Linked DNA regions of Homo sapiens: regions 1 and 3 are each linked to region 2. Evidence: fine-mapped QTL for protein levels in blood plasma. Region 2 holds a variant in brackets. A gene starts in each other region. All regions are shown on their forward strands.

Region 1 (10,587 bases), not on the chromosome of region 2:
GTCTATGCTCCAGAGAAGGCTAACAATCTCTGTGGACTTGGGCAATCTTATTGGTTCCCATTTGGAATGTCTAATCAATATTGCTTGATGAGTGGATTTCCATACCTTCTGTTTTACAATACTAGGTAGTGGAAATATTTCCTGGTCAGATACAATATCCATCCCTGTAATACATTCAGGTAGAAGAGATGCAACCACTCCACATAAAACCTGTTCAAGCGCATACCACTTTTTTGTTTTGTTTTGTTTTGTTTTTGAGATGGAGTTTCGCTCTTGTTGCCCAAGCTGGAGTGCAATGGCGAGATCTCAGCTCACTGCAACCTCCACCTCCTGGGTTCAAGTGATTCTCCTGCCTCAGCCTCCTGAGTAGATGGGATTACAGGTGCGCACCACCACACCCGGCTAATTTTGTATTTTTAGTAGAGACAGGGTTTCTCCATGTTGGTCAGGCTGGTCTTGAACTCCTGATCTCAGATGATCCACCCACCTCTGCCTCCCAAAGTGCTGGGATTACAGGCGTGAGCCACTGCACCTGGCTGCATTTTTATATTCTCTCAATCTCATTGCAGTGCCCATCAGGACTTCAGCAGGTGTTTTTGGTACCACAGTGCAGGACTGGAGGTTGTAATTCCACTGACCAGAATCTAAGCATGGCCCATCTTTTACTTTCAGTTTGGCTATTAGAGATAAAAGTCTATAGGGATTGTATATTTGCTTTTCTTCTTCTTAGTATACATTTCCCTATGCACATGAGTCAACTCCCCAAAAGTTAGTGATCAATCACCTCTAATTTCCATTGGTAACTTTTACCTCCAGTAACTGATTGCAGCATGACTGCTCTTCACACCATGGGTGACCCTGTATCCACTCGAGAATGAAAGGTTTCTCATCCCCTGCCCTTTCAACTTTTCTTTTCCCAACCCATATGTTTCAGTGAGTCAGGGTCATTCTAGTAAATCCACATTTTCTGACACCAACTGCAATACTGCAATTTAATCCTGGCACTAACCATCGGGAGTTAGTGCAGAATCCACACTCAGGTTAAGGGCACGGTCCTGAGTGAGACGGCCTCACTTCTGACACCAGCCACAAGTTCAGGGGTCCCCAGGCCACCTGCACTTATTACCAAGTGGCTACAAATGTAGGGGTTCCCATAACCCTTTCAGATTTGATAATTTGCTAGAACAACTCACAGGACTCAGAAAAGCTTACGGTTATGCTTAGGGCTATAGTTTTATTATAAGAATACAAGCCAGGATCAGCCAAATGAAGGGGTGCATGGGGCAAGGTCTAGGGGGGCCCTGAATGTAGAGCTTCTGTGTCCTTTCCCCATGGAACCAGGACGTTTCCCCTCCTGGCTCATCAATGTGTTCACCAACCAGGACTTGGTATTTATTTGTTTTATTTGTTTGTTTGTTGAGACAGGGTCTCACTCTGTCACCTAGGCTGGAGTGCAGTGGTGCAATCTCAACTCACTGCAACCTCCACCTCCCAGGTCAATGATTCTCACGTCTTAGCCTCCTCAATAGCTGGGATTACAGGCATGCACCACCACACCCTGCTAATTTTTGGCATTTTTGGTAGAGACAGGGTTTCACCATGTTGGCCAGGCTGCTCTCAAATGCCTGGCCTCAAGTGATCCATCCACCTCGGCCTCCCAAAGTGTTGGGATTACAGGCATGAGCCACTGTGCCCAGCCTACTTACCAGGACTTTGAAGTCCAGAGTTTTTATTGGGGTTTCATGACATACGCATGATTGATTGAATCATTGATCATGTAATTGAACTCCATCTCCAGCCCCTTCTCCTCCCTGAAGGTTGAGAAGTTGGGCTGATATCATGTGGACCAAAACCCCAACCCTCTACACACATGCTTGGCCTTTCTGGCACGGCCTGCCTTCATGTGGAGTCGTCTTGTTAGCAGAAGCTGTCTAGGGACCCACCATAAGTCACCTCATTAACAAAAGCTACCAAGAGCCTGGGAAACATGGCAAAACCCCATCTCTACAAAAAATACAAAAATTAGCCAGGCATGGTGGCACACACCTAGTCCTAGCTATTCAGGAGGCCAAGGTGGGAGGATCACCTAAGCCCAGAGAGATTGAGGCTGCAGTGAGCCATGACTGCACCACTGCACTCCAGCCTGGGTGACAGAGTGAGACCCTGTCTCAAAAAGCAATCAGGCCAGGTGCAGTGACTCATGCCTGTAATCCCAGCACTTTGGGAGGCCAAGGTGGGTGGATTGCTTGAGGTCAGGAGTTTAAGACCAGCTGGCCAACATGGTGAAACCCCGTCTCTACTAAAAATACAAAAATTAGCCAGGCGTGGTGGTGCGTGCCTATAGTCCCAGCTACTTGGGAGGCTGAGGCAGGAGAATCACTTGAACCCTGGGGGCAGAGGTTGCATTGAGCCAAAATGCTCACCACTGCACTGCCAGCCTGGGCAACAGAGCTAGATTGCTGTCTCAAAAAAAAAAAGAAAGAAAAAAACAACAACAAAAAAACACTAATCAGGGACCACTATTAATAACAGACATTCCTATCACTTGGGAGATTCCAAGGAGCTTAGAGGTTACTTTGGAGGAACCCAAGACAAAAATGAAACTAATTCCTCATTATACAAGAAGTGGCTTATACATGAAAGGATTGACTCAGCAGGTCTGCTGTGTTCAAACCCTGCACATTTCAGAGAAAATTCTGGCCTGTGACCAGCCCTGAGAGATGAGATTTAAATTACCAAAATATGCTGCCTGATAAGTCTTTGTTTTTCTGGGGCCTTGGGCCATGCCAGATATTTGATGCTAATAATGTGATTTGTGGCAGGGGCCTTTGGCCGCCCAGTATCAGTTTGAACTCTGGAGAGTGAGTAACTGAGGTCAGCCACACAGGTAGTCCACGCTTTCATCACTGACCTCCAATAAAAACACTGGACACCAAGACTCAGGTGAGCTTTTGTGATTGGCAATACTTCATGCGTGCTGTCACATGTTATTGCTGGAAAAATCAAGTCCTGTCCATATAAATCCACTGGGAGAGGAAAAACTGGAAGATTGAGATTATTTTCTCCTGGACTTGGCCCTAGAATATTTCACCTTTGATGGCTTTAACATGTATCTTTTCACTGTAAGAAACCATAATCAAGGCTGGGCACGGTGGTTCATGCCTGTAATCCCAGCACTTTGGGAGGCTGAGGCAGGCGGATCACAAGGACAAGAGATTGAGACCATTCTTGCCAACATGGCAACACCTCTGTCTCTACTAAAAATACAAAAATTAGCTGGGCGTGGTGGCAGGTGCCTGTAGTCCCAGCTACTGGGGAGGCTGAGGCAGGAGAATCGCTTGAACCCAGAAGGTGGAGGTTGCAGCGAGCCGAGATTGCACCACTGCACTCCAACCTGGCGACAGAGCGAGACTCTGTCTCAAAAAAAGAAAAAAAATGAAACCATAATCATGGTATAACCATTTGGAAGTGTTAGTGAATCACTGGCCTGAGGTTGGTCTTAGGGAACACCAGTAAAGTCATCTTCCCCTACATTTGGCAAACAGCCTAATGCTTGACAAAGCACTGGACCACCCAGCCTCTCTGAAGTCCTCATTACAATTGCTCAGGACAAAACCTATTAATTATCCCAGGTACACTTTTCCCCTTTATATTCCACAATTGTCATGGGCAAGCACTGTCAACTCTCCCTGTAACACACACCCTCTATTGAACCCCTTGTCTCTGTCTCTAGTCTAACCACTGGAACCCAAGCCCAAACCTTGTTGCCTGGAGCCCCGCTCTCCCCGGACCTGTTCCCACTCTGCCCCAATCACACAGGCCTTCGTCCCAATCCCTGAACAGTGCGTCAGGGCCTCTGCATGGCCCTTTCCATGCCTGGACTGTCCTCTCCCAGATCAGCTCAGCAATGGTTCCTGCCACAATTCTGCTTACACATCACCTCCTCAGAGACACCGTCCCTCCCCATCCTCTCTAACACACCCTCTGCTCACCCACACCAGCGGGCCCTAACTTCTCTCTACTTCAAACTGTGCTTCTGTTACTGTTTTGCTTCTATTATTATTATTATTATTATTTGAGATAGAGTTTTGCTCTTGTTGCCCCGACTGGAGTGCAATGGCATGATCTTGGCTCACTGCAACCTCCACATCCCAAGTTCAAGCGACTCTCCTGCCTCAGCCTCCCGAGTAGCTGGGATTACAGGCGTGCGCCACCATGCCCGGCTAATTTTGTATTTTTCATAGAGATGGGGTTTCACCATGTTGGCCAGGCTGGTCTCGAACTCCTGACCTCAGATGATAGCTCCCACCTTGGCCTCCCAAAGTGCTGGGATTACAGGCATGAGCCACCGTGCCCAGCTGTTTTTCTTCTATTATTATTGTTCTTGCAGGAGCTGGTAAAGTGGCTGATGTGGCCACAGCTCCATAAATCCATGTGGAACGAAGGGTGGACATCGCCTGAGTCCAGGAGACAGGACAGGGTCACTCATCTCTGTCCCTGGTGATGGAAACTCAGGCTCAGGAAAGAGCCTTGACCTGCCCTGGGTCACAGAGAGAATATGAGGGTCAGGGCTCAAGCCCAAGTGCTGTCTTCAGGCCCTTAGGCTGCCTCTCACACCCAGACTAGGAAGCTGGAGCAGAAAGTTTGCTAGAACAATCCTGAGAAGAGGCCTGCACAGTTCAAGGGGCAGCTTGGAGGAGGAGAGGAAGGGAGGGCGGGCTCTGGCCAGCAGGCTCTTGGACCTCAGGCCAGGCTCTGGCAGCTGCGTCTGGTATCAGGACTGCAGGTCCCGACAGGGGGCGGTGGCTCACGCTTGTATTCCCAGCACAGTCGCCAAGCCTAATGTCCCTTCCAACGGTGGAAAATTTTGGTAAAAATCAATGACAGGCTGGGCGTGGTGGTGCATGCCTGTGATTCCAGCTACTCAGGAGGCTGAGGCACGAGAATCTCTCGAACCCGGGAGGTCTAGGCTGCAGTGAGTGGAGATGGTGCCACTGTACTCCATCTGGACGACCGAGCAAGACTCTAACAACAACAACAAAAAAAACGGACTGCAGGTGCAGTGCCCAGCACAGAGCCTGCTACATAGGAATTCTCATTTTCTTCTCTTCCCTACTCTTTCCTTCCTTTATAATCTCTTCCTTTCCCTCTGAAGTACCGACCCCAGAGCTTGAGATCTCATCCCAGCCTCCCTCTTATTGCCATCCTCCCCTGCTGCCTTCCCCACACCCCTACCTCTCACAGGGTGGGGGTAGGGCCTCCTGGGACCCCAGTCCCAGCCCCAGCAGCAGTAGCAGGCACAGCTCCCAGGTCCTCCCTGGCATGGTGGCTGTGACTGTGACTGAATGAGCAAGCCCAGGCACCTTCGGCTTGCTGGGCACAGCCTGGCTCACCTGCCTGTCCAAGTCGGCCAAAGTCCAGCCTTTGAGGCGTGGCCACCTGAGGGGACGTGTGCTTGGTCTGTGTGTGGCCCGCTTGCCCCTCCTGCTCTCAGGGCACAGTGGCCACCTCCCTTGCTTCTACTTTGCCTCTTCTATTTCACAGTCTCAGCTGGTGCCAATGGCTCAGGCCCTTCCCTCAGAGCATGGTGGTGGGGGTGGGGAGTGGGCACCCAAAGGCCAGGGACACAGTCGAGGCCACACACCTGTAACCTGGATGCCAGGTTCCTTGGGTGGCCCCAAGACCACCAACCTCAGAGAGTTACCATTTCCCTTAACATTTCAAATGGAATGGCTCAAGATCCTGTCCCTGGTGTGGTGTGAAATTCAGGGCCTCTCACTGTTATCTGCAAGAGATACAGCGGAAGCACAGGACAGTAGAACCATTCTGTCTGGGGAGGACTAAGGGAGACCCACAATAGTGTGTCATTTGTAATGAGTCTTTTTTTTTTTTTTTTTGAGACTGAGTCTCACTCTGTCGCTAGGCTGGAGTGCAGTGGCGTGATCTCAGCTCACTGCCACCTCCGCCTCCCGGGTTCAAGCAATTCTCCTGCCTCAGCATCCTGAATAGCTGGGACTACAGGTGCCCGCCACCACGCCCAGCTAATTTTTGTATTTTTAGTAGAGACGGGGTTTCACTGTGTTGGCCAGGATGGTCTCAATCTCTTGACCTCATGATCTGCTCGCCTTGGCCTCCCAAAGTGCTGGGATTACAGGCGTGAGCCACTGCGCCAGTCCTAATGAGTCTTGATGACCGCATAGGAGTTTGCCAAGGGAAATGGGCTGGAGACCACTACAATGTATGCAGAGCATGTGAAGAGAAGAGCAAACCCCTCAGCCTAGCTGCAGAGAACTTGGTGTTCATGCAGGGAAGGGTTTTGAGATAGACTGGAGGAACATGTTGGCACCAGTCTGGAAATGGTCTTTGCCAAGCCAAGGAATGTAATTCCTTGTAATTCCCCAAAGTGGAACCAGCAGAGAAGTTTGTGAGCTTAAGAAGCAGATTCAGGCTGGGTGCAGTGGCTCATGCCTGTAATCCCACCACTTTGGGAGGCCGAGGCGGGTGGATCACCTGAGGTCAGGAGTTCAAGACCAGCCTGGCCAACATGGTGAAACCCCGTCTCTACAAAAATACAAAAATTAGCTGGGCATGATGGCGGGTACCTGTAATCCCAGCTCCTCAGGAGGCTGAGGTGGGAGAATCGCTTGAACTCGGGAGACAGAGGTTGTAGTGAGCCGAGATCATGCCACTGCACTCCAGCCTGGGCGACAGAGTAAGTCTCTGTCTCAAAAAAAAAAAAAAAAAAAAAAAAGCAGATTCGGTTACTTTAGGAGGCTCATCCCCTCAACATATGGAAGGTGAGCTGAAGGGACAGGGGACAGGGGGTGGGCAAGGCACATGGAGTTTAATGATAGGCATGACCTCTCCTGAAGGACTTAGGTTTGCAGTTAAGGATGTCAGTTGTGGCACCTGAGCAGTGTTTACTGCTATTAAAAAGAAAAACCTTAGACAAATTAAATTTAACCATTTATTCAAGCAAAGAAATGACTCATGAATCAGGCACCACTCTGAACTAGTAAAGGTTCAGATAGCTCCACCCAGTAATGTGGGCAGCTGGCATTGTTTTTTTTGTTTGCTTTGTTTTTTGAGACAGGGTCTCGCTCTGTTGCCCAGGCTGGCATGCAGTGGCTCCATCACAGCTCACTGCAGCCTTGATCTCTCAGGTTTAAGGGATTCTCCCACCTCAGCCTCCTGAGCAGCTGGGACCACAGGCACATGCCACCACGCCCAACTAATTTTTAAATTAAAAATAATTTTTTTTTTTTTAGAGATTGGGTCTCCCTATGTTGTCCAGGCTGGTGTGGAACTCCTGAGCTCAAGCAATCCTCCTGCCTCATCCTCCCAATGTATTGGGATTACAGGTGTGAGCCACCATGCCTGGTCAACAATTTTTAAGTGTACAATTCAATTTCCTTTTATTACATTCACAATGCTGTGCAACCACCCTTGCATTCTTTGGATAAATCTCACTTGGTCATGATGTCTAATCCTTTTAATAAACTGTTGGTTTTGGCTTGCGAGTATTTTTTTGAGGAATTTTGCATCAATATGTATAGAGCATATTTGACTGTAATTTTCTTTCCTTGTTTTGTTTTGTTTTTTTTTTTTTTTGGACACATAGTCTTGCTCCATCACCCAGCAGGCTGGAATACAGTGGCATGAACACAGCTCACCACAACCTCGACTTCCTGGGGCTCAAGTGGTCATCTGGCCTCAACCTTCTGAGTAGCCAGGACTACAGGTGCATGCCACCACGCCTGGGTAATTTTTAAATTTTTTTGTAGAGACTACATCTGACTGTGTCGCCCAGGCTGGTCTTGAACTCCTGGCCTCAAGTGATCCTCCCGCCTTGGCCTCCCAAAGTGTTTCTCCCCAAGTGTGAGCCACCATGCCCAGCCCTCTTGTGATGTCTTTATCTGGTTTTAATATCAGGGTAATGTTAGCCTCATAGCATGAGTTAGGAAATATGCCCCTCTTCTATTTGTGGAAGTGTTTGAGAAGGATTGTTAATTCTTTAAATGTTTGGTAGAATTTACCAATGAAGCCATCTGGTCCTGGACCGTATTAGGCAGAAACAATACATATATGGGGGATGGGGGTAGAGAGAGAGAGTTTGAGAGGTAGCTGGCAAGTCCAAAATCTCTAGGGTAGGCTGGCAGGCTGGAGAAACAGGGAAGAAGCTGCAGTTCAAGTCTGAAGGCAGCATGCTGAGAGAATTCCTTCTTCTTCTGGGGAGGTCAGTCTTTTTCAAATTAAAGTCTTCAACTGATTGGATAAGGCCCATCCAAGTTAGGGAGGGTAACCTGCTTTACTCAAAGTCTACAAATTTAAATGTTATTTTCATCTAAAAAATATCTTCACAGAAACATCTAGAATAATGCTTGACCAACTATCTGGATACCTTTGCCTAGCCATGTTGACACATAAAATTAAACATCTTTTTTTTTTTTTTTGAGATGGAGTCTCGCTGTGTTGCCCAGGCTGGAGTGCAGTGGCATGATCTTGGCTCACTGCAACCTCTGCCTCCTAGGTTTAAGCGATTCTCCTGCCTCAGCCTCGTGAATAGCTGGGATTACAGGCGCCCACCACCACACCCAGCTACTTTTTGTATTTTTAGTAGAGATGGGTTTTCACCGTGTTAGCCAGGCTGGTCTCGAACTCCTGGCCTCAGGTGATCCACCCGCCTTGGCCTCCCAAAGTGCTAGGATTACAGGCATGAGCCAACGTGCCCAGCCAATGTTCTTTAAAAAAACACATGACTCTACAGTGATTGTACTAACTTACATTCTCACCAACAGTATATGAGGGTTCCTTTTCTCCACATCCTCACCAGCATTTGTTATTGCCTGTCTTTTGGATAAAAGCCATTTTAACCGTAGTGAGATAATATCTCATTGTAGTTCTGATTTGCATGTCTCTGATGATCAGTTATGTAGCGCACCTTTTCATATACCTGTTTGCGACTTGTATGTCTTCTTTTAAGCAAGGTTTATAGTGATTCAGATCTTCTGCCCATTATGCAGACTGGCTTTGTTCTGGGGGAACACCTCATTATATTGCGCAGGCTGGTCTCAAACTCCTGGGCTCAAGCAATCCTCCCACCTTGGCCTCTCAAAGTGCTAGGATTACAGGTATGAGCCACCATGCCCAGCCAGTAGTGTTTTTTTTTTTTTTTTTTGAGACGAAGTCTTGCTCTATCACCCAGGCTGGAGTGCAATGGCATGATCTTGGCTCACTGCAACCTCCGCCTCCTGGATTCGAGTGATTCTCCTGCCTCAGCCTCCTGAGTAACTGGGACTACAGGCGCCCACCACCACACCCGGCTAATTTTTGTATTTTTAGTAGAGATGGGGTTTCACCATATTGGCCAGGCTGTTCTTGAACTCCTGACCTCATGATCCACCCACCTCAGCCTCCCAAAGTTCTGGGATTACCGGCATGAGCCACCACGCCCGGCCTCCAGCAGTTCTTTTTTTAGTATTATATGTTTACAACTAACCAAGTCTACTCAAATAACACTACATTTCATGGTAGTGCAAGTACCTTATGATAACAAAGTAGTCTTAACTTCTCCCTCCTGTCCCTTCTATCATTGCTGTCATTCAGTTCCCTTATCCATAAACTAGAATCGTTGAATACACAGTTGCTATTACAGATTGAGCACCCCAAATCTGATAACCCAAAATCTGAAATGCTCCAAAATCCAAAACTTGTTGAGTACAGACATAATGATCAAAGGAAATGCTCACTGAAGCATTTCAGATTTTGGATGATCAGATTTGGGATTTTGAACCAGTAAGTATATTGCAAATATTTCAAAATTCAAAAAAAAAAAATCCAAAATCCAAAATTCTCCTGGTATCAAGCATTTTGGATAAATGCCCTGTTTTATTTTGAACAAACCATTATCTGTTAGATTAACTAAGGATAAGAAAAGTAAAAGCTTTTATTTTACCTTCACTTATTCCTTCTCTAAAGCTCTTCCCTTGTTTATGTAGTTCAAAGTTTCTAACTTATATCATCTTTCTTTTCTCTGAAGAAGTTTTTTTTTTTTTAAATACTTCTTGCAAGACAGGTCTACAGATTCTCTCAATTTTTGTTGGCTTGTGAAAGTTCTCATTTCTCCATCACTTTTTTTTTCCTTTTTTTCTTTTTCTTTTCTTTCTTTTCTTTTCTTTTTTTTTTTTTTTTTTTAAGACAGATTCTTGCTCTGTTGCCCAGGCTGGAGTGCAGTGGTGCTATCTCGGCTCACTGCAATCTCCGCCTCTCAGGTTCCAGTGATCCTCCAGCCTCAGCCCCCCAAAGTAGCTGGGACCACAGGCATGTGCCACCACTAAAGTTTGTATTTTTTTTGTAGAGACGGGGTTTCACCATGTTGCCTAGGCTGGTCCCAAACTCCTGAGCTCAAAGCCATCTGCCTGCCTCGGCCTCCCAAAGGGCTGGGATTACAGGCATGAGCCACTGTGCTGGCCTCTCCATCACTTTTGAAGGATGGTTTTGCAGGAAAGAGATTCTAGGGATTATAGGTTGGTGGGGTCTTCTTCTCTGTCAATGCTTTAAATATCTCACATGGCTCTCTTCTTCCTT
Region 2 (10,587 bases):
TTAATAATCAACTTCAAATGGAACTAAAAGTATTCCTAAACAGTTCAAAAGTCCACTTTCACAAACAATGATATCACAAAGACTGGTGGTGAGAGGTGCTAGAGATACAGCTAGCTGATGTTATCTTTAAAATTTTAAAACAAAAGTTTTTCATCTTTAAGTCATGGCTGCCTCTTTACTATGTGCTGGGTTAAGTGCCAAGTCAATTATATCACAACTGGCACTTGGGGTCCATCTTTGGCATTAAAATTTCAAGTGGTTCTAGGCAAACTGAAGTGTGTTTGAGGAAGAAACTGACCAAGATTGTGGGAAGGCAGAACCACACTTACAGCAAAAAGGACTGGAGAGGGACAGCAGATATTACGTATTAGAGGGGTGTGTGTGTGTGTGTGCGTGTGCATGTGTGTGTTACAGTACTAGTCTTCAAATGACTTACAGTCTTTCATTTGAAAGATGGATTAAATGTGTTCTGCACAGCCCCAAAGGAAAGGATCAGAATTAAGGGATTAAAAGTACAAAGGAGAGAGTTATGCTTGATATAAAAAGACTTTTCTAATTCAAGATGGAGTAACCTACCTTTAAAGATAGTGAGTTCCCCATCGTTGGAGGTGTTCCAGCATAACCAGATAACTACTTGGCAGAAATATTGTGGGCAGGGTCCAAATCCCAGTGAGACATTCATCTGAGTGACTTTAAAGGTTTCGTCTGAGACTGAAATAATCCTTATTTGCTTTCAGACAAACACACCTTAATCCAGCAGTCATTAAGGCCATTCCCCACTAAGTGAGAAATGAGATTTTTCAGATCTACTTGAAAACTTTTAGACTTCACGTGATTTTCTAAAAGACAAACGATTTCTCAAGAATAGATCTACAATCATGCCCCTAAGCTGTCATGAAAACAAACACGACAGCACTCACAAGCACGAGAATTCGTAAGCTTTATACTACACAAAGTCATATTAAAATTAGAAGATGCATTTGTGAATGTTCCCTTTGCCTAAGGATAAGTGGAACATATAGATATATCTCTCAATTCTATCATAATGGCGATTGGTTACACAGGTTAGCTGTACTTCATGGTATTCTGTATTCTTGGGGAAAATAATGCTTATATTTCACTCATATCCTCTTAAAACAAGCAGACTTAATGAAAATCATGGTTGAAGAGAGCTAATGATAAGCAAATAAGAATAACCCCATTTGTACCAAACTGATTTTATTAAATAGTAATTTAAAGATATTAGGCTCAGCAAAGCATTACATAATTGGATCTATTTTTTTCCCATATAAATGCCAGAGTTATAATTTCCACTAACTAGAGACAAAGTTATATCCAGGACGTTTTTCACAGCTTCCTCCAGGGGAGGCATGAAGATAGAAATTAGGGTTGTAGTTCTTGTTTCACGTTATCAGATGGAAAAGCTAGGCTATAACGCAACCTCTGTGAGCCTCAGTTTCTTCATCAGTCACTGATGGGACTATCAGTGACTCTCTATGGAGGATTAAATGATGTAAGAGTGTTTGTAAACCATAAAGCACAAAATAAATATAGATTAGCATCATCTCCCTATTTGTTTATGAAATGCCTAGTAAACTTCAGAAGCAGTAACATTTTAAAAAATGAAATAACTGGAAAACCTAGGGAATAATCTTGACATTATTTTTTATACCCACAGGAGCAAAGATTTTTAAAGTTATCGTATTATCTCCTGAAAATATGATGAGGGCTAACAAATTTCATTCCAAAAAGAAAATCCAGAAACAAAAGATTTCAGCTGCTTCCTTGCATTTTGCCCATTGGATAGTATATGCTATTATCCATCTATTTAGACCTCCTATCTCTTGACAATTAACAGAAAAATCATGTTCTATCATGTCACACAAAATACTGACGGATAGAAAAAGCTCTGACTACGACTCTCTCAGTTCATGAATCAAAAGGTTGGGATGGAAGGGAGTTATCTTCAGTAGAATAGCTAGATGGGGGAGACAGAACTTGTAAATCATTCCTCAGAGGGTCTGTATGTGGTCTTTGAGATACTATCAAATGTCAATTCACACCTGACTTGTCACTGGTGGATGGCTCCAAAAAAACTGTTTTTTAAGTAGAGAAACATAAAAGTGGTGTAGCTGCTGACTCTGAGTGTCTAATTATGGCTTTAAAATTATTAAATATGAAATACATAAAGGCAGCCTTGATTTCTTACTAATAAGTGCTGTAAATAGTAAAAATGAATGCAGAAAACATTTCCATGACAGAGTATTCTTAGGAAATTTGTTCCACATAAGGGGTTTTGTTGATCCCTATAATAATTTAAGAGATTTTTAAGAAAACTGAACCCTACATCTACCTCTGCAAATCTATTCATCCATCCATCCATCCATCCATCCATCCATCCAGTAACTTTTCTCCAGTAAGTGGCCATTTATAAATATTATTTTCCTAGATACCCCAGAGCAAATAAGAAAGTGGTTGGGTGCTATTGTAGGTGCTTTGCAATTATCACCTTGCTGATCTCATCCACTTTTATTGTGTCTCACTTGAGTGGGAGGGAAAGATAGGAGAAAAAGGAGACTAATGAGAATTATTAATATATTTACAAGTGTATCTACTACATATTAAAGAGCTAAGGTTTAGATGACATACTGTATATTTCTAAATGACTATTTCTGTTTAGAAATTACATTATTTCATGACTGGGCAGCATTAAATAAATTATATGGTTCTCAATTCAAATCGTGGGCAAAAGGGTTTACTTGTGCATGCTGCTGCTTTGTATCTCAAGTAACGTGATTGAAATATATAAAATCAAGAGGCTGCCCATGAAAATGGTGCTTTTAAAATACTCTCTACTTCATGGAGGGTCCAGGCTTCTCCCTCCTCCCATGGACAAATGGATTCAGAAATCCTCTTTGTCTTTAAAAGAACTGATCCCTTCTTGCCAGATAAGCATTCTGCTCAGTAGTGGCAACCATTTGGGTTTTCTCTTTTCAAGATCCAGCCATCACCTTCTCCCAATCCTTCCCATCACAAGTAACAAAAATGGTACAAAAATCCCAGTGAAGGGATACCAGGCAATGGGTCCTTACAGTGAGATCAGAGATCGAATTCTAATTTCATTTCGTAGAAAGAAAGGCCAAGTTCTTCAAAACTACAGAATCGTATTTATTACAGTTGGACATACTACCAACACATACAGTATTTTCAAAGTGGTGAGGAGTCTTGCATTTGCACATGAATCAGGCCGGACGAAGAATCTACGGGCCAGAAATTCCCTTTAAGCCTCCCTGTGCTCTTATAACTCCATTTGCACAAACACAGGCTGAGCACTCATATGAAGCAAAGGGGTATATCATCTACTGAAACTGATGAACGTCTTACATTTCCTTTCAGTACTCCGCTGCCGCGTGACATCTGGCCAATGCACTTTTATGATGAGCAGAACAAGTGCTCCCCCGATTATAAATGTTATAGCTGGCTCTCTCCCTTTGCCCAAGAAGCAATCCAAATGGTATTGGAATTTTGTTGTTAATTAAACAAAAGCAAAATTGAAGGATGAGACTAGAGTTACTCAAATGAAGATTTATTACATTTGAGCATGAAACTAAGCCTAAACTTATTTGACAACTAATGCAGAGGAAGGATTTTCTTCTTTGGTGAGTTCAAAGGGCCTGATTTACTGATGTTTAAAAAACATCAGTAAATCAGCCAACAAAGAGAATCTTTCTTTTATGGTGGCTTGTTCTCTCCTCCCTTGTCCACATGCATCCACATACCAAAAAGCTATATTGTAAACAGTATTTCTGTTTTGCACGAAAAATCTAGTTATACAAACTGTCTTACACATGGAACCAATTTAACTATTAAAACTGAGAAGCAATAGGGAAGTATTTAATAAGATTCTAAGCCAGTTTTTTCCTCTAAATCTGATATGGAAACATTTACAGCATTCCTCACTTCCCCACAAACTATTTTCTCTTTCAGCTTAAGTTTGCACCAAAGCAAGATAATCCCATTAAAATTCAGGATATTATGATATTGGGAGTGAAATATTCTAATTGTTCAGATGCATTCTCTCTCCCTCTTCCTCTATCTCTCTCTCTCTCTCTCTCTCTCTTTCAGGCAGCTGAGTTTATAGAAAAATTGCATTGCCAGTACTTCTGAGGCACTTTTTTCAAAGCACAATACTATGAAACTATTATTTTATGGCAGACAGAGGTCACTCCAAGTGTGGGGGTAGCGTGTGTGATTCTTATTATTCTATTAGCAAGGGACAGTATGGAACTTCACTTTGTAGAATTACAAAAGCAAAAGCCTATGTACTAGGAAACATCAACTTTAAATCAAAATATTAAAACGTACTTTCCTTTTTTTTGGTGGGTCGTTACTGTTCATTAGGGGAGAAAGCAGTTTAAAATGTCTCAGCCTCTCGCCTTTCCTCCAATCAACACAAAGTATATTAGACAAAGTGGATAAAGACTGGCATTGACATCTTCCAAATAGCAAAATCAATTTTATAATTTAAAGACAAAAAATGCTTTAACTGCAGAGGGCATTTAAGACGTTTCACACTTACAGGGCTAATGAAATGCAGGACTAGCATAAAAGTTTTTTGGGGGGGTGGGGGAGAATAGATTTTTTAACATAAGAAGTCGATAAGAAATCTTAATAATTTTTCCTCCCAAATAATTTTAAGTGCTTAAGAGCGCGGATCACGGGAGGTTTCCTCTCTTTTACTTATATGAATTACATATTCTAAAAATGATTAAATCCCATTCCCCTCAAGCCACAGGGGAAAAGAGAAAATTTGCTGTGGGCACATTATATAGAAAGATTTCATCTCAAGCAGCTCATCTTAACGTCCAGTACGTTTCGGCCTGTTAATAATTAATAAAAGAGATGCCACCCAATCTCTAGTGAAGAAAGGCAAAGCTCGGTGATCCGAAAGTAAACCCAGCGCAGATACCGAACTGGTGTCCTTCATTCCAGATTGCAACA[C/A]AACCCCAAACTAGCAAACGTTTAACAGGCGCTTGGCACCCGCACCGGTGGCTAGGACCCGCAGGACAGTCTGGGTCTGCACAATTGCTGCGCATTAGGGAAGCCGCGTCCGCCGCAAACAGATGGGGCTCTAAATCCCCAAGCCTGGCGGCCGGGCCTGCGAAGCAGCTCGGGCAGATTATCCACGGCGAGGAACCTGCGGGCGCACAAGCGGGCGGCGGGCGGCGGGCGGCGTGCTGCGGGCTGAGTTTCTCCGGAGCTGTTTGCAACCGTCCCAAGAGCGAGTCTCGGTTTCTCCGGCAGCACGGGCGACTTCCTGAACACCTCCAAACTTTAGCTTTCCCATCAGAAAGTTCCCTGACTTGCCACGGTTTCTCTCCTTCTCACCTGAGAGGACCTAGAGCCAGTCCTCCCTCCAACCAAATCCCCCTCCCCTCCCGCCCCCGGCCCGGCTACGGAGTCCTGATGAGGGCGGAAGGCCGGGCCGCCCGGCAGGATTGGCCGCGACTAACCCGCGCCCGTCGGCCCTCACCACGGTCTAACCTCCGCCCCTGCCCGCGGATCCCGTGGGCTGCCGAGTTCCTCCCCACCTCCATCCACCAGCCAAAGTGTCAAGCGGGGTGCGCCGCGGCTCCCTGGGCCGCCCAGAGCGTCTTGGCACGCTCGAGGCGCCCGTCTCGCTCCGGCCCGCGCGCTTTCGGAAGTGGCCGCGGCGGGACACAGCGCGGGACACAGCGCGGACCTGCGGCACTTGCCCGGCCGGCGGCCGCTGAGGCGCTCGGGGACGCAGGGGCAGGGCGCAAGGCCTGGGGCGCTGACCAGTCCCCGGGGATGACATCGCGACAACGCGCACGCACGGCCCTGCCCGGCCGCGGCGCCTCCCCGACCTAGGCCGGAGCTGTCCCGGGTGCGGGCCCTGGGGACCGGCCGCGGGCGTCCCCGGCTTCCTCTGAACTCCGCAGACCCTCCCCTTCCTTTCCGAAGCGCGGCGACTCCCGGCAAACTTTCTTTTGGGAGACCCGCCCGGTGCCAAGCGGACCCAAGAGACTGACAGGAGCCGGAGGGGGCAGCAGAGGGGGATCCACCCCGTGCGCCTTTGCCCCCCAATCGGAGGCAGGCCGATCCCGTGGCCGGGCTCAGGTGGCGCCGCGGCGGTGGCCCAGAAGGCCCTGGCAGGGCCCCCGCGCCGAGCCCCGGGCAGTACGTGCGTTCGGGCAGGCGCGCCCACCCCTCCCCCTGCGCGCCCTCCTCCCCGCCCCCCGGAGCCGCCAGCCCACCCGGCCCCGGCGGGGCGCCCGGGCTCACCTTTCATCGCTGCGATCACAAAATACATCATTTAAGCCGCGGTGCGGAGAGCGCAGGGAGAGCGGATGGTCCGACCCCGGAGCCCCCTCTGCCGCCGCCGCGCCGCCGCCGCCCGAGCCACAGCAGCAGCTGCCGCAGCTGCCCGCCCGCCGAGAGCCATCCCGAGCCATAAGAGGCTCCATGTGACCGGCTGACATCACGGCCGCCGCTCTGTTTACACCGCGCCCCTCCGCTTCCTCCCGGGGCGGGAGGCGGGAGGCGGGAGGCGGGAGGCAGGCGCGCCCCAGCGCCGCGCCCCGCCCCGCCCCCGCGGGCAGGTGAGTAGCAGCGGCGGCTCTGCTGGCCCACCCCGGCCGGGCCTGCCCTCCCGCGCCCCGGGCCCTCGCCCGGGCGCCCGCCTTCCCCTCGCCTTCGGGATCACCTGTGGCCGCCGGTCGCTTTTCTGCACGCAGCGCCCCGCGGAACGCGCCTCTGACCACTTTCTGCCCCCACTCGGTGGGGCAAGAGGCTCGCAACCCGACGCCACTCTCCCGCTGGCTTGCCGGAGCACTCGGGGGCGATAAATGCGCCAGCTCGTTGGTGGAAAAGACAGGTTTGGTCTGGGGAGCTACGGTCACCCGCATTTCCTAGAGTGCCCCAGCTCTAATCGGAAGGTACGGCCCACTTCTGGGCCGTGGAGAACGAAGCCACTGGGACCGTCCGGGGAGTGGAGTAAGCTCCTCCGAAGTCTTTCTGGAGAGACTCGGCCTGGGCGGGGGAACTCCGCCCACCCAACCCTTGGCAACCCTTGGATATTGGCAGTTATACCAATAACCAAGGTCCTGGTCTACACCTGTCCCCCCCAACCCCCTTCCCCGCGTCCAAGACCACTGATACCTGCAAGGAAAGCCGGAAATTGTATGTGAATCACCTAAATGAACTCCAGTTGCCAGCTGATTTGAGCCGCTAAATTCCCAGGCTCTTCCATATCTCTCCAGAGAACCCATCTACAAGTAGGAAAAGCTATCGTTTTCATACCCTAAAAATGAAACACTGTGGTAATTCTGACAGAAAATAAAGACCTCTGAAGGTGAACTTTGTACATTTTAACATGCGACTAAGACTTAATTCCCTCTAAACTTTGAAGCTTAATTCTTCTTACTGTCCTTACGGAACTGTAAATCATGACGTTATTATTTTACAGGTCAATCTCTTTACAATGAATTTCAGATGCTACATACCCAGAGTCTGCATTGTTTAAAACTTTGGTCAGGGTGTCTATAGTACCGAGCATAACAGAAAAAAATTCTGAAAAGCCAAGTTTGCGTACCTATTGCGGTTCCTTCACGAAATTTCATTCTGCTTGCTTTTCTGTTGGTCTGTTGCCACGCACAACTTAAAATATCAGATGGCTATTAGCTGTTGCATTCATGATGATTAAGCAAGGATAATTCTAGCATATTTTTTTCTCCATGTAAGTGAGTTGCTCTTGCCCCTGAGTTGGGCCACAATTTAAAACACAAGCAAATAATCAGCACCGTAGAAAACAAGGATTCATACACTCCCTCCCCAGCCCCCTTTCAAGGCAAAATTGAGTCTTCCAAACATTTATACAGCGCTCTGATTTAGAAGGTCAATAAAGTTCGTTGTCCTTCAGTCAAGCCATGGCTTTATAAAAGTTTGATTTCAGATAAATTCATTCTAATACAGCTTTTTTTCTTAAAGATTTTTCCCCCAAAAAAAACTACAAAGAAAAGAAATTATAAAAATGTGAACCCAAGACCTACCCATGTTAACTCAGCTGTCCAGCCATAGCAAAGTGGACAAGAGTTTCAAATGAATCAGCCATACCCACTGTAATGTTTACAATTATGAAATTAAATCACACCACGTTCCTATGATGCAACTATATCTCCCAATGAGGCAACGCCCCTCAGTTACACTGACACCATCATTCACATTTGGTTATTGATTTCCCTTGTGCTAACGACTAATGCCAAGCTATCCTATAAGCAGGTCCCAGGTACAATTTTCTTTCTTTTGTATCGTTAAAGGATGGAAAACCATCGGAGACTGCATCCTCGGAAGTATGTTCTTCCCTACTCAATGCAAGTGAACCCAGATATACAACTCGGATGATTCACAATGCTACTTTAAAACAGTATCCTGCTTTAGAAAACAATGTTTTCAAAAGAACCAAATCTATTAGCTCTAGCGTGCCTTGTGAGACATCTGACTCCAAGGTGAATAATCTGACATCACTAGTAATCAGTATTTATTTCCAGATCATTTCAAATGAAATCAGTCATTGGGAACAACATGTAACATGACATCTGCTCCTGCAGTTATAAGTAGAATCATTCATTCTATAGATATGTCCCCAATAGAAATATAATCTCAAGTACTTATCTGAAATATTTACACATTTATTCAACAAAGACATTTCCAGAATAATGTAATACTGACCTTGCCCTTTGGAGATGTACTTCATTCACTTCCTACAACTAATGAGCAACAGAATTTCAGATATGAAGTCCTAACCTTCCAATGTAGCTAGATGCTATTTGTAATACATGCCTCTATTAAATGTCTTCAGCTTTTAACCCAGGTTATATTACTGTTCTTTATATTAACACAAAGCTCTTTGAGAGTAAAAACTATAGGCTGTTTTTTTTTTTTAACCACTCAAAATGCACATTTTCTATGACATTATAAGGCCCCAACCAAACAAATCAGTCAGGAGTAAAAGGGAACATCTCCCATATTGAAGGGACATCTCCCTTCAATAATACCAAATTGGAGCCATAAATGATACATTTTAGCACAAACTTTTACCCACTGTATATTAAAATACAATCATGTAAAAGCCGGGCATGGTGGCTCATGCCTGTAATCCCAGCACTTTGAGAGGTCAAGGCGGGTGGATCACTTGAGGTCAGGAGTTCAAGACCAACCTGGGCAACATGGTGAAACCCCATCTCTACAAAAATACAAAAATTAGCCAGGCGTGGTGGTGCTTGCCTGTAATCCCAGCTACTACTCGCGAGGCTGAGGCATAAGAATTACTTGAACCCAGGAAGTTGAGGTTGCAGTGAGCTGAGATCACACCACTGCACTCCAGCCTGGGCGACAGAGCAATAATCTGTCTCAAGGAAAAAAAAAAATACAATCAAGTAGAAATACAATAAAATATTAAAATGCAATAAATATGTAGGAATAATCGTTTGGATTTTATTAAATAAATGCTTATGAGTACCGACTGAGGGAGAACACAGTGCTAAGGAACATATTCTTTCTTTTTCTTTTTACCAAGTGTTCTGAAAAAAAAAAAAAAGTAAAGTAATATTGCTTACATGAAGATAATTAAACAGAATGGGACTTCTTTACCAGGAATGGGAGTTTGTTATATATTAATTTGCAGCTCAAAGGTTTCTGTTGACTAATCTCAGAAAAAGAAGGCACACAACATACTTATAAACACATGTAACTCATCTCAGAGTCTCCCAGGATGGTCACAGCCCCACGTGGTGTTCCTGTGTGCTGGGTTCCACACTGAGTCTGCCACACAGTAAGAAAGTAGAGAGACACTTCTAATGCCAAGTTGTTCCCAAAAACACCTAGGGGAAAAGATGGGTGCATTTTTGCAGGAGTCTAGACGGTAGTATCACTAGTAAATTGGTGCCAGTCTTCCTATGTTACAGTTTAAATAAATGATACTTGACTTTATGAGCGTATATTTTGTTTTTCACCACACAAGTTCTGATCTCATAATTTGCCACCCCAAATCACAGATATAATGCTATTGGGGAGAATGACAAACCAGTGGACTGGCAAACTTATCCCGAATCTGCAAGTGGCTCCTAGGACAAAGGTGATTTCAAAGTTTGCTGATGCATGTGAGGCACAGCATTTTGGTTTTGTCTCACCCAGGCCCTGCGTCTCTCTCTCCAGTGTGCGTCTGCTTGCTAATTCAATTAATTTTGTTATAGCTGAACAAGAAAGGGATCAGTGAAAGGTTAATGTGGTCCTAGGCAGCTTGATTCAATGGAATCCTTAGCCACCACTGCACTGTGACCTTTAGGAGTTGAGCCATTCTGGTTGACATAGAGCCAGGGGACCAAGTTTCCTATAAACACAATAGGGTCAGACCCAGAGAGTTCTAAAGCAAGGATACTTGGGAAGCTATGGACACATCACAAACTAACCTAGAAGAGATCACAGCCTTGCTTAAATATGAGTCCAGAAGGAGCCAGTTTCTCATAAAGGAACACTTACAAATGGAGTAACACTGGTGAGACCCAG
Region 3 (9,616 bases), not on the chromosome of region 2:
TCTAGACTCCGCACCGGGGCATGGCCCCCGCCCCAAGTTCTCTCTGCGGCCGCGGCTCCGGCACTCAGCGTGCCCCCGGTGCCCGGGCCGCTCCGGAGCACCCGGCGGGGGCCGCAAACCCCGCGCCCATCCGGGCCGGCCGGCCCGCCCGCGCTAGCTGCGAACTCCGCCGATTCGGGCAAGGTGTACCCAGCCTGCGCTCTTCGTCCGCCCGGGGCACGCCGAGTGCCGCTACCGACACCGGCCGAGGGCAGTGCTGCCGCTGCGCCTGGAAGACAGGCGTTCAGCCCCGCAGCCCGAGCTCGGTGCCGGCAGGCATCTTCCTCTGGGCTCGGAGCGCAAAGCCGTAGACCTCGGGCTGGACGGCGCGGCCGGCCCCGCGCTGGGAGGCCCCAGTGCGCCTCGCTGTCCCCACGCCGCGGCCAGAGAGCGCGCGCGCGCGCGCAGCCTCGGGTTCCGCACGGCTCCTCCGCGCAGCAAGAGTCCCGCCGACCTCGCAGCCGAACAATCAGCCGCTTGCTGTTCGCCTCCCCGCGGCCCAGCCCCGGCCGGTCCCCCAAGCCCCGCCCCCGGCCGCTCGCCCGCACACACCCCCTAGGCTCCGCGCTCCGCGGCCGCCTGCTGGCCCACGTTGGATGCTTTGCAACAGCGCCCCGCCACGCCTCCCCGCCTGCTGCTCATTGGCTGCCGGAGTCCACCGTGGCCAGCCTCGAGGGCCATTGGAGCGCTCGCTGTGATCCCGCCCCTCCCGCTTCACCGGCTACCCCGCCCCCACACTCTTTTCCCACCCAAGGTGTGAAGGGCGGGAGACTGGGAGGAGAAAGGGAGGGACGGCCCCCGCCTCTTAAAGGAGACACGCAGGTTGTTGTTGGAGAACGGGAACGCGGGCTGGGGAAAGGAGGCGTGAAGATACGCCCTCTGCGTCAAGAAGGGGAGAGAAAGTTAAGAGGGTAAAACGCCCCCGTTTTGGGGCTGTCTGGCCCCAAGGCTTTTTACGTCCTCCTCAGGCTGCAAGCAGGACTGCAGATTAGAAGCAAACCCGCGTCCGTTTTCCAGGTTCCTTCCAAAAGCGAAGACACAGGTTTAAAACTTAACACATTTCTTCCTGACTGGGACATCCTTGGTTATTTCATTAGGCGTGGTCCCCTTCCTCCTCGAGCAGCCTGGAGCATCTGCTCCTGACTTGTTCTTCACGTCCTAAATCCAGCAATATGTCCTTGATTACTAAAATGAATGTGTGCTGCAGAAACCTAGTCTCAAAGGTGCACCCTCGGCCAGGAGTGGTGGCTCACGCCTGTAATCCCAGCAGTTTGGCAGGCCAAGGCGGGCGGATCACCTGAGGTCAGGAATTCGAGACCAGCCTGGCCAACATGGTAAAACCCCGTCTGTACTAAAAATGAAAAATAAAAAAATTAGCCAGGTGTGGTGGTGCACACCTGTAATACCAGCTACGGGAGGCTGGGACAGGAGAGCTGCTTGAACCCCGGAGGCGGAGGCTGCAATGAGCAGAGACTTGTCACTGAATTGTCACTGAATTCCAGCCTGGGTGACAGAGCGAAACTCCGTCTCAAAAAAAAAAAAAAGTGCACTCTCCTTCCCAGCTAGTGAGTTGAAGGGTACTTCTAGAAATGCTGCAGCCTTTGATAAAGGGGTTGCTTTGTTGTTGTCATTGGGTTTTTGTTTTAATCAGAGTCTTTTTAAGATAATTTTCAAGAAGCCATTGTGTATTCGTAAGAGACAGAGTTAAAGGAGAAATAATAGTTAACAAAGCTTCTAACTTTTGCTCTTAAAGATCAGACCATAGTAGTAGTGTGTTACGATAGTACGTGGTAACATTAAGCAGACATACACACATTGAGAAAAAAAGAAAAAGATTACCACTGTAACATATAGCTGCCCTCTGGGCGTTTTGGTTTGCTAGTGTCTCATATCCCTTCCCAAGAGTATGCAAATTACTAACATAACTGCGCACATTGTCAGGAAGATTAAGCAGGTCAAGTCTGTTGAAAAACATTTGCTCCAGAACATTAAATCTGAGTTGTGTTTTATGGAAGTGGGGTGGGGTGGGAGGTAAAGAGGAGAAGTTGAACCTTAGGGAAAAAAGGCAAAAAAAAAAAAAAAATTAAAGGGTTTATTCCATTTTCGACACAATCTAAGAGGTTTGCTTTAATTGAGATGCACTAAATGTGTTAAACTTTCCCTCAGCCATAAGATCACCTCTTTTCTTTAGCCAAAATGTGATCTTCCTATCCCTTCCTCCCCTTTTTCCTTCTTCCCCTTCTGAATTCATTGCGCCTCATTTTTTTCTTGTTTAATTTTGCATGATCTCAGCAGTGATGCCCAAAGCAGTGCTCAAATATGTGGGTAAATCAATTCAAATCTAATTCCCAAGAAATATTATCAGAAAAATGCTGCACCTGACCCATCCCACCCAGAGCTTTAACCAGCTTTTATGTTTCATATGTAATCCAAATAAACATACACCTTCCATCTGGACGAGAAGAAATATGTCCTTTTGTTCTATCCCTTTTGGTAAATATAATAATAATAAGCAGTGGGAATGGAATTAAAAAGACCCTAAATTTATGAAGTCCTCTCAGTCAGTGTTTAAGTTTTACACAAAGAACACAAAACAGTAATTTGATGCAGAATACCCACAGCCGTTTCCTGAAATGAAACTGTCAGATCCTCCCTGTCCCCACCCCACAATAAAACAGCATATGCAGCAAAAAATGAATTGAACTGATTGAACTACTTGAGATGCTGACCTAAAATTATCTTTCAGGTTTGTCTCATTTCTAGTACTATAAAAGTGGGTAATTCTTGTAAAATGTTTTTTCAAATGTGTATGGGTGTACTTGTGAGATGCCTTTTTGGAATCTTAGTTTTCTGGAGGATAGAATTTAAGAATCTGCAAGGTGAGGGAGTGCCCACAAATCTAAAGCATCCCTTGTGGTCTGGTTACCATGCAGCCAGAGAAAAGGATTCCAAAGCCGGGGCACACTTGGGGGGACAGGGCGCCTAAGCCTTGGCAGTTCCTCTCGTCTACAGCAAAGCATGAAGTCATGTCTGCTCCCCATACCATGTATGGAAGTTTGCCCACATACTAGCAACCTGCTTGTGATTGCAATGAGAGTGTGAACTTGGAGAGCAGTGATATCCAGCTCAGGGGGGAATTCATCTGCAGCCACCACCTAAGATGAAGGAGATCTCAACAACAACAACAGCAAATGTCTAAGGGAATCTATGTCTCTGCTCATAAAAGTGCAAGTCTTGGTCCATTCAGCACAGAGCAACAGTTGATTTGGGTGCTGTAGGTCCTTATTTTCCTCACACTGCAACTTTGATCTTTCTAAATGCTTATTCCTTAAATGAGTCATCCGGGGATTTTAGATTTTCCAGTTCATTTTCATCTACCCCAGGGATAGCATGGAATCAAACCCCAGTGAGAATCTCTGCAGGTCTCTCTTGACTCCAGAAGCCCTAGCAGTTAATCATCCTAAGTTAATCATGCTTGAGAGAGGAACCCAAAATCTAAATAGCCTGAAATCTATTGGGGAGAGAAGCAAATAACAAAATAACAAGAAAGAAGGTTAACCATAGGAATTTTTTTTTTTAACACAACTTCCTGGGGACTGAATTTGTGCCAGTTTGCTATAGTTCTAGGTGGTGGTCTTTAGTGGTTTTAAAGAATGCTGAGATTCAGAGGGGCTTTCTTAATGTTAGGTGAGATTTTACACTGTGTTCAATACATTAAAAAAGCACCAGGTCACCATTCAGGAGAGCTGGGTTCCAGCCAGGCCTTGTTATGGGTGAAACCTTTGACCAGTCATTTTCTGTCTTGGAGCCTCAGTTTTCTCAAATAGAAAACAAGGGGCTGGGCACGGTGGCTCACGCCTGTGATCCCAGCACTTTGGGAGGCCGAGGTGGGGGGATCACCTGAGATCAGGAGTTCAAGACCAGCCTGGCCAACATGGTGAAACCTCATCTCTACTAAAAATACAAAAATTAGCCGGGTATGGTGGCACACACCTATAGTCCCAGCTACTTGGGAGGCTAAGGCAGGAGAATCGCTTGAACCCGGGAGGCGGAGGTTGCAGTGAGTCGAGATCGCACCATTGCACTCCAGCCTGGGTGACAAGAGCAAAACTCCATCTCAAAAAAAATATATATATAAAAGAAAAATAGAAAACAAGGATAATGGTACTTGACCTGGGTGCTGAGTGAGTAAAGAAGGATCATTTTGATAAAGGACCAAAGGGGCATTATAAACTGTTTACATCTCATTGTTTTCAAGGTGTTATTGATTTGTTAACTCTGAAAAACTGAGAGCCCATATGTATAATGTAGATGGAAAATCTTAGCAGGTTGTTTCAGCAGGAAAGTTTCTTGTCCAGGAATGTGACAAAGGGTTAATAATTAGCTATGAAACCCCTGAAGACTTGCAGGGTGATGACAGCCCTGCTTTGAGCCTGTTTTCTATCTCTCTTCCAAGGAAAATAAAACTGTGTACTCATTAACTCCTTCGTCGCAATAATCTTGTCAAGGAGATGGATGGGTGGAGAAGGTAAGAGAGGAGGCTAATGAGTCTGGGAATAGAATATAAAAAGAGAAAGATTTTGAGATCTCCCCATCCCCCATTCCAACATTTGCCTTTGGTGGAGGTAGTTTTCTTGTGCAATCTCTGGCTATTGGAATATTGGTTAATGCCCAGACAGTGCCAAGCTGCAGCTGCTGCAGTTCCACAGCAAGAATGGTTGTTGCCTGCAGCTCAGCTGTGACCCTTCACAGGATCTGCCCTCCTCCACAGAGCACCATCGACAGGGGCCAAAAACCTTTAGAGTCCACTTTCTAACACAAACTAGAACCTTGACACTTGTCCTTGCCTTGTGAATGTGAAATGTTTACTGGTTCACTGAAAGGATGAAAAAAAATATGTCAAAGGTATGAGCATTTCATAATTCTGAGATTGAGATTCTGGAGTAATGGTCATTGTAGGAGGCAGTCCCTTACCTCTGACGGTGATGATGATGGGATGGACTAATTACATCATCACCAGAGACCGCACCTCTCACTCCCAATCTGCTGCCTTTGCAAATGTCACTCCGAGAAGTACATGAGGGCGAGTGCAGGGAGGATTCAAAGTTTATGCCTCACTGCCAACCACTCAGAACTAACACTGCAATGTATATAAAGAACAGCACATTGATCATAACATAATAATAATCTTATGAAGTCATATACCTTACATTTTTCAAAGCACTGTCACATCATAACAACAGCTATCATTTACGGAGCACTTTTTATATGTCTTTCATGTTGTTGAGTGCTTTATGTACTTTTTTCAGTGAGGTAGGAGCTAAGAAAAACGTTTAAGGCCACACAAGCTAATAAGTGACAGGGCCAAGATTCCAAACCAGTTCTGTGGACACCAAAGATCTATTTTGGGCTGGGCACGGTGGCTCAATTCCTGTAATCCCAGCACTTTGAAAGGCCAAGATGGGTGGATCACTTGAAGTCAGGAGTTCGAGACAAGCCTGACCAACATGGTGAAATCCCTTCTCTACTAAAAAGAAAAATATTAGCTGGGCATGGTGGTGCATGCCTGTAGTCCCAGCTACTCAGGAGTCTGAGGCAGGAGGATCACCTGAGCCCAGGAGGCAGAGGTTGCGGTGAGCCGAGATCGAGCCACTGCATTCCAGCCTGGGTGACAGAGCAAGACCCTGTCTCAAAAACAAAGAAACAAAAAACCCCAAAGATCTATTTTGACATTTGAGCCTCCTAAACTTTGAATATGAAAATTGTTATTGTTCCCACTTTACAGATGAGAAAGCTGAGGTTCAGTGATTGTCCCAAGGTCACGCGGCATCAGGAATAAATAGAATCTTAAATCACAAGTTTCATCACAACCACCAGCACACATATTTTATATTCAGTGAATGTCTTACGAAGTGTATCATGGAGCTTCTTTCTCAGGGATGCCATGAGAATGGATGTGATTTCTTTACTTTTTCATATTTACTAATAGATTTTCAAAGTTCCCTCTATGATTAATAAGTTAAAATTTTAAAGGATAAATATCTAGACTTTTCTCTCCCCCCATACCCAGCAGTACTTGTATAACAACAGTGGTTAACATTACTGATCACTTACTATGTGCTAGGCATTATTTCACATCATGGCTTAATTTCACTGAAGAATTCTATGAGATACCTTAGAGATTGTCATCTTACATATGAAGTTACTGAAACTCTGAAATCAATCCCCTTGCCCACATTATACCCTAATTAGGTGCTGAGCAGGAAGAGGCTCACAGCTAACCTACCCCAATCACACTCCCTCTCTTATCATTCTCACTTTTGATTATTTTTCCTGTTTATCTCTTCCTCCAGTCTAGTAGCTCAGTAAGTTAAAAGTAAGTTAAAAGACTGAGTCTAAATCCCTTCTTGGTATTCCTGTTGTCTAACACAATTCCAGGCACATGGTAGGCACAGAGACAATATTTGCTGAGTGAGTCCTGCCTGCCCTGCAAGGAGGGAGAATTATCAAGCCTCTTTCCTCCCCCATTTTATTTTATACATGCTTGCTATTCACATATGTGTGCTGACCACATCAATATTACCTGGAGCTTCTCAGAAATGTGAACCTTAAGGCTGGGCACAGTGGCTCATGCCTGTAATCCCAGCATTTTGGGAGGCCAAGGTGGGCGGATCACCTGAGGTCAGGAGTTCGAGACCAGCTTGGCCAACATGGTGAAACCCTGTCTGTACTAAAAATACAAAAATTAGCCGGGCATGGTGGCATGCGCCTGTAGTCCCATCTACTCGGGAGGCTGAGGCAGGAGAATCGCTTGAACCAGGGAGGCAGAGGTAGCAGTGAGCTGAGATCACACTATTACACTCCAGCCTTGGTGACAAAGTGAGATTCTGTCTCAAAAAAAAAAAAAAAAAGTAATTTCAAAAATAAAGACAAGCATGTGGCTGACATTATTGCACCTAAATTGAAGCGCATGCAAAACATCTGCTGCCCATGAGATTTTGGTAAAATCCTCTCGTGCCATTCAATTCTCTTTTCCTTCACCATGCATTCAGACTAATAAAAAGCATTTGCAAATTTTATAGCCTGTTATATTTGTTTCCAAAAGGACAGTTGGGTTTATGACACATTTCAAATTTATTATAAACCTACAGACAGACACATATTATATGCTTTTCACTGTCATTCTTATCCATGAGCTACATTCTTTAGATAATCATTTAAATATCCTTATTTCCCTGGGGGAGCTTGACACTCCTCTTGGATTTAGATGCTATAAATCAAAGAAAAGTCTTTGTCTTTTCCGCAACTCTTTCTTATTTGAAGTGCCTTGACTGGTTACTATTTGGAGAAGGCAGCTGTATAGAATAATTGTCTGCCGACGGCCACTAGCAGTTTCTCCCCTCAAGAGGCAAAGTCTATTTTCTCTCCCTCTTAAATCTGGATTGGCCTTGTGCCTCGCTCTGACTGATAGAATGCAGTGAGAGTGACGCTCTTACCAGTTCTGGGCCTGGCAGCTTTGTCTCTCACCCACTTCCTACCTGGAGCTGTCATGTAAGGAAGTCCAGGCTGCCCTCCTAGAAATAGAGGCCCTGGAGGAGAAGAGACCATGGAGAGAGAGAGGCAACGTGCAAGAAAACTGGGTGGCCCAGCCAACAGCCAGCATCATAACCCCAGACATGAGAGTGAACTCATTTTGGACCTTTTAGCACAGACCAGCTAAATGCAACTGCACAAATGAGCCTCGCCAACATCACATGAGCAGGGCTAAGCCATCCCCAAGGGTCTTTCCCAAATTCCTGACCCGCAAAATCATGACCAATAAAAAAAGCTCTTGTTTTAAGCCACTAAATTTTGGGGTGACTTGTTATGCAGCCATAGATAACTGAGATAACAAGTGTGGCTAAGTGAGCATGCAATAAAACGTGAGTGGATTTTGGGGGAGGAATAAAATCTAATCAAATAAACCCGTCATCAGGAGTGTCAAAAAAATTAGTGTTATCAGCTGACCTTCCTGACGTGTTTGTCAGGGCCCTTGATTGAACGCAACAGGCTAACTGGCTGATGCCATCGAACAAAACTTCTTAGATAATAAATATTCTGGTTCTTCAGCAGGCCACAAAACAGGTTCCCTTCCACTTCTCTTAGAAACAGGTATGAGAGAAATGCAGAGGATCTGCTTATTTATAAAAGGTATGTTCTCTTATGTAACCCCATGGCATCCAGGTAAAATAACTGATTGAGAGGATGAAATAATTGAAGATCTATTCTTCCCGAAAAGATCAGATAAGGCTTAACGTGTTTACTCCATTTTTCATATGGGACAAATAAATGAATATTTTAAAATGGAATCCTAGCCATAAAACTGACACTGAGATACAGAGTTTGGGGGTATGCTTTGGTAGCGGGTGACAGTGGTGGGGATTATATCTCTTAGCTGTGTGCTAACCTTTAAGTTCTGCAAAGCATAGCTTACTGCCTCCTTATATATTGTCTTGCACTCTTCTCCAGCTCTCATTTCTTAGAAGCCATCACTGTTAAGCAGTGCTGCTTACAAAATCAAGTTAGCTAAGTCCCTGCCATCAGAGAGTTTATAATCTGATGGTATTGTTGACTGCTAGGTCCCCAGGATCTAGAACAGTGCCTGACAAATAGCAGGCATTCAATACATATTACTGAACGAATACATGATCAAATGAATGAACGGTTTTCTGTATGCAAACCTCATTTTCCAGTCAAGGCTATAAGCAGCTCACAGGAAGCAGGCCCCAGAGCCACAGACTATTGGAAGACAAAGGGATTTCGTGTCTTTGAGTGCAGTAGGTCAGGGTGAAGCCTGCCGGATCATCAGATCTGCCAGGTCAGAAACTTCTAGTGACCAACCACCCAGGTTTGGAACTCAGGGGTTTCCCAGGTCATGGGACTTCAAGTGCTAAAATAGGAAAGTTCTGGAAAAATCAGGACAAATTGGCCACCCTAATTGTAATTCTAGTTTCTAAATGCACACTTAGAACCTTTTGCATGCCGTATAGCTAAGCTATATGAGAACCTACTACAGTATGCACCAGGGAATAACTTGAGTGGTTCAAATGCATCAACTCATTTGATCCTCCCTACAGCCCTATGAGGCAGAACTATTAAAATCTTTTCTTTCTATAAAATAGAACACTGAGGTGCAGAAGGAAGTAATCTGCTGAAGATCACACAGCTAGGAAATTAGACTCCAGAGCTCACACTTTATTATTATTATTGTTATTATTATTGAGACAGGGTCTTGCTCTGTATCCCAGGTTGGAGTGCAGTGGTGCAATGTCAGCCCACTGCAAACTCCACCTCCCAGGCTCAAGCAATCCTCCCATCTCAGCCTCCCGAGTAGCTGGACTACAGGTGTGTGCCACCATGCCCAGCTAAGTTTTTGTATTTTTAGTAGCAACATGGTTTCTCCATGTTAGCCAGGCTGGTCTCGAACTCCTGAGCTCATGCGATCTTCCAGCCTCAGCCTCCCAAAGTGCTGGAATTACAGGCATAAGCCACTGCACCTGGCCCAGAACTCACACTTTAAACCAGCACTCTCGTATAC

Which allele goes with the higher level. Positions count from the first base shown, and alleles are read on the strand shown. Strength reflects both the effect of a copy and how common the allele is.
As copies of A replace C in region 2, the plasma level of the protein whose gene starts at base 5,347 in region 1 goes up (weak association).
For the plasma level of the protein whose gene starts at base 521 in region 3, A is the high allele of the variant in region 2 and C is the other (weak association).

The links. A credible set is the group of variants that fine-mapping cannot tell apart. PIP is the chance, under the fine-mapping model, that this variant and not a neighbour inherited with it causes the effect. Protein levels are from antibody-based Olink assays in UK Biobank. Linkage for the fine-mapping came from a reference panel and not from the study's own genotypes, which makes the PIPs less certain.
Region 1: TREH starts here. The variant in region 2 is the best candidate, but not a certain one, in a credible set for the plasma level of the TREH protein (UK Biobank, PIP 0.75).
Region 3: it holds the start of LRIG1, and the variant in region 2 is the best candidate, but not a certain one, in a credible set for the plasma level of the LRIG1 protein (UK Biobank, PIP 0.53).

What each region holds. Positions count from the first base shown.
Region 1 is chr11:118,674,304-118,684,890 of GRCh38, forward strand. It overlaps TREH (trehalase), which reads right to left and starts at 5,347. Exons shown (of 15, transcript NM_007180.3): 1 at 5,236-5,347. The coding sequence starts at 5,324. RefSeq lists enhancers at 4,577-5,238, 5,239-5,898.
Region 2 is chr15:60,586,081-60,596,667 of GRCh38, forward strand. All of the region lies in intron 2 of RORA (RAR related orphan receptor A), which reads right to left. The region is part of intron 3 of RORA-AS1 (RORA antisense RNA 1); the gene reads left to right. Among named protein-coding and RNA genes, the nearest start is that of RORA-AS2, 90 kb to the right of the region's middle. RefSeq lists silencers at 5,594-5,713, 5,744-6,793. The variant C/A (reference allele first, on the strand shown) is at 5,002.
Region 3 is chr3:66,500,502-66,510,117 of GRCh38, forward strand. It overlaps LRIG1 (leucine rich repeats and immunoglobulin like domains 1), which reads right to left and starts at 521. Exons shown (of 19, transcript NM_015541.3): 1 at 1-521. RefSeq lists enhancers at 1-117, 118-618 and silencers at 1-30, 71-210, 231-890.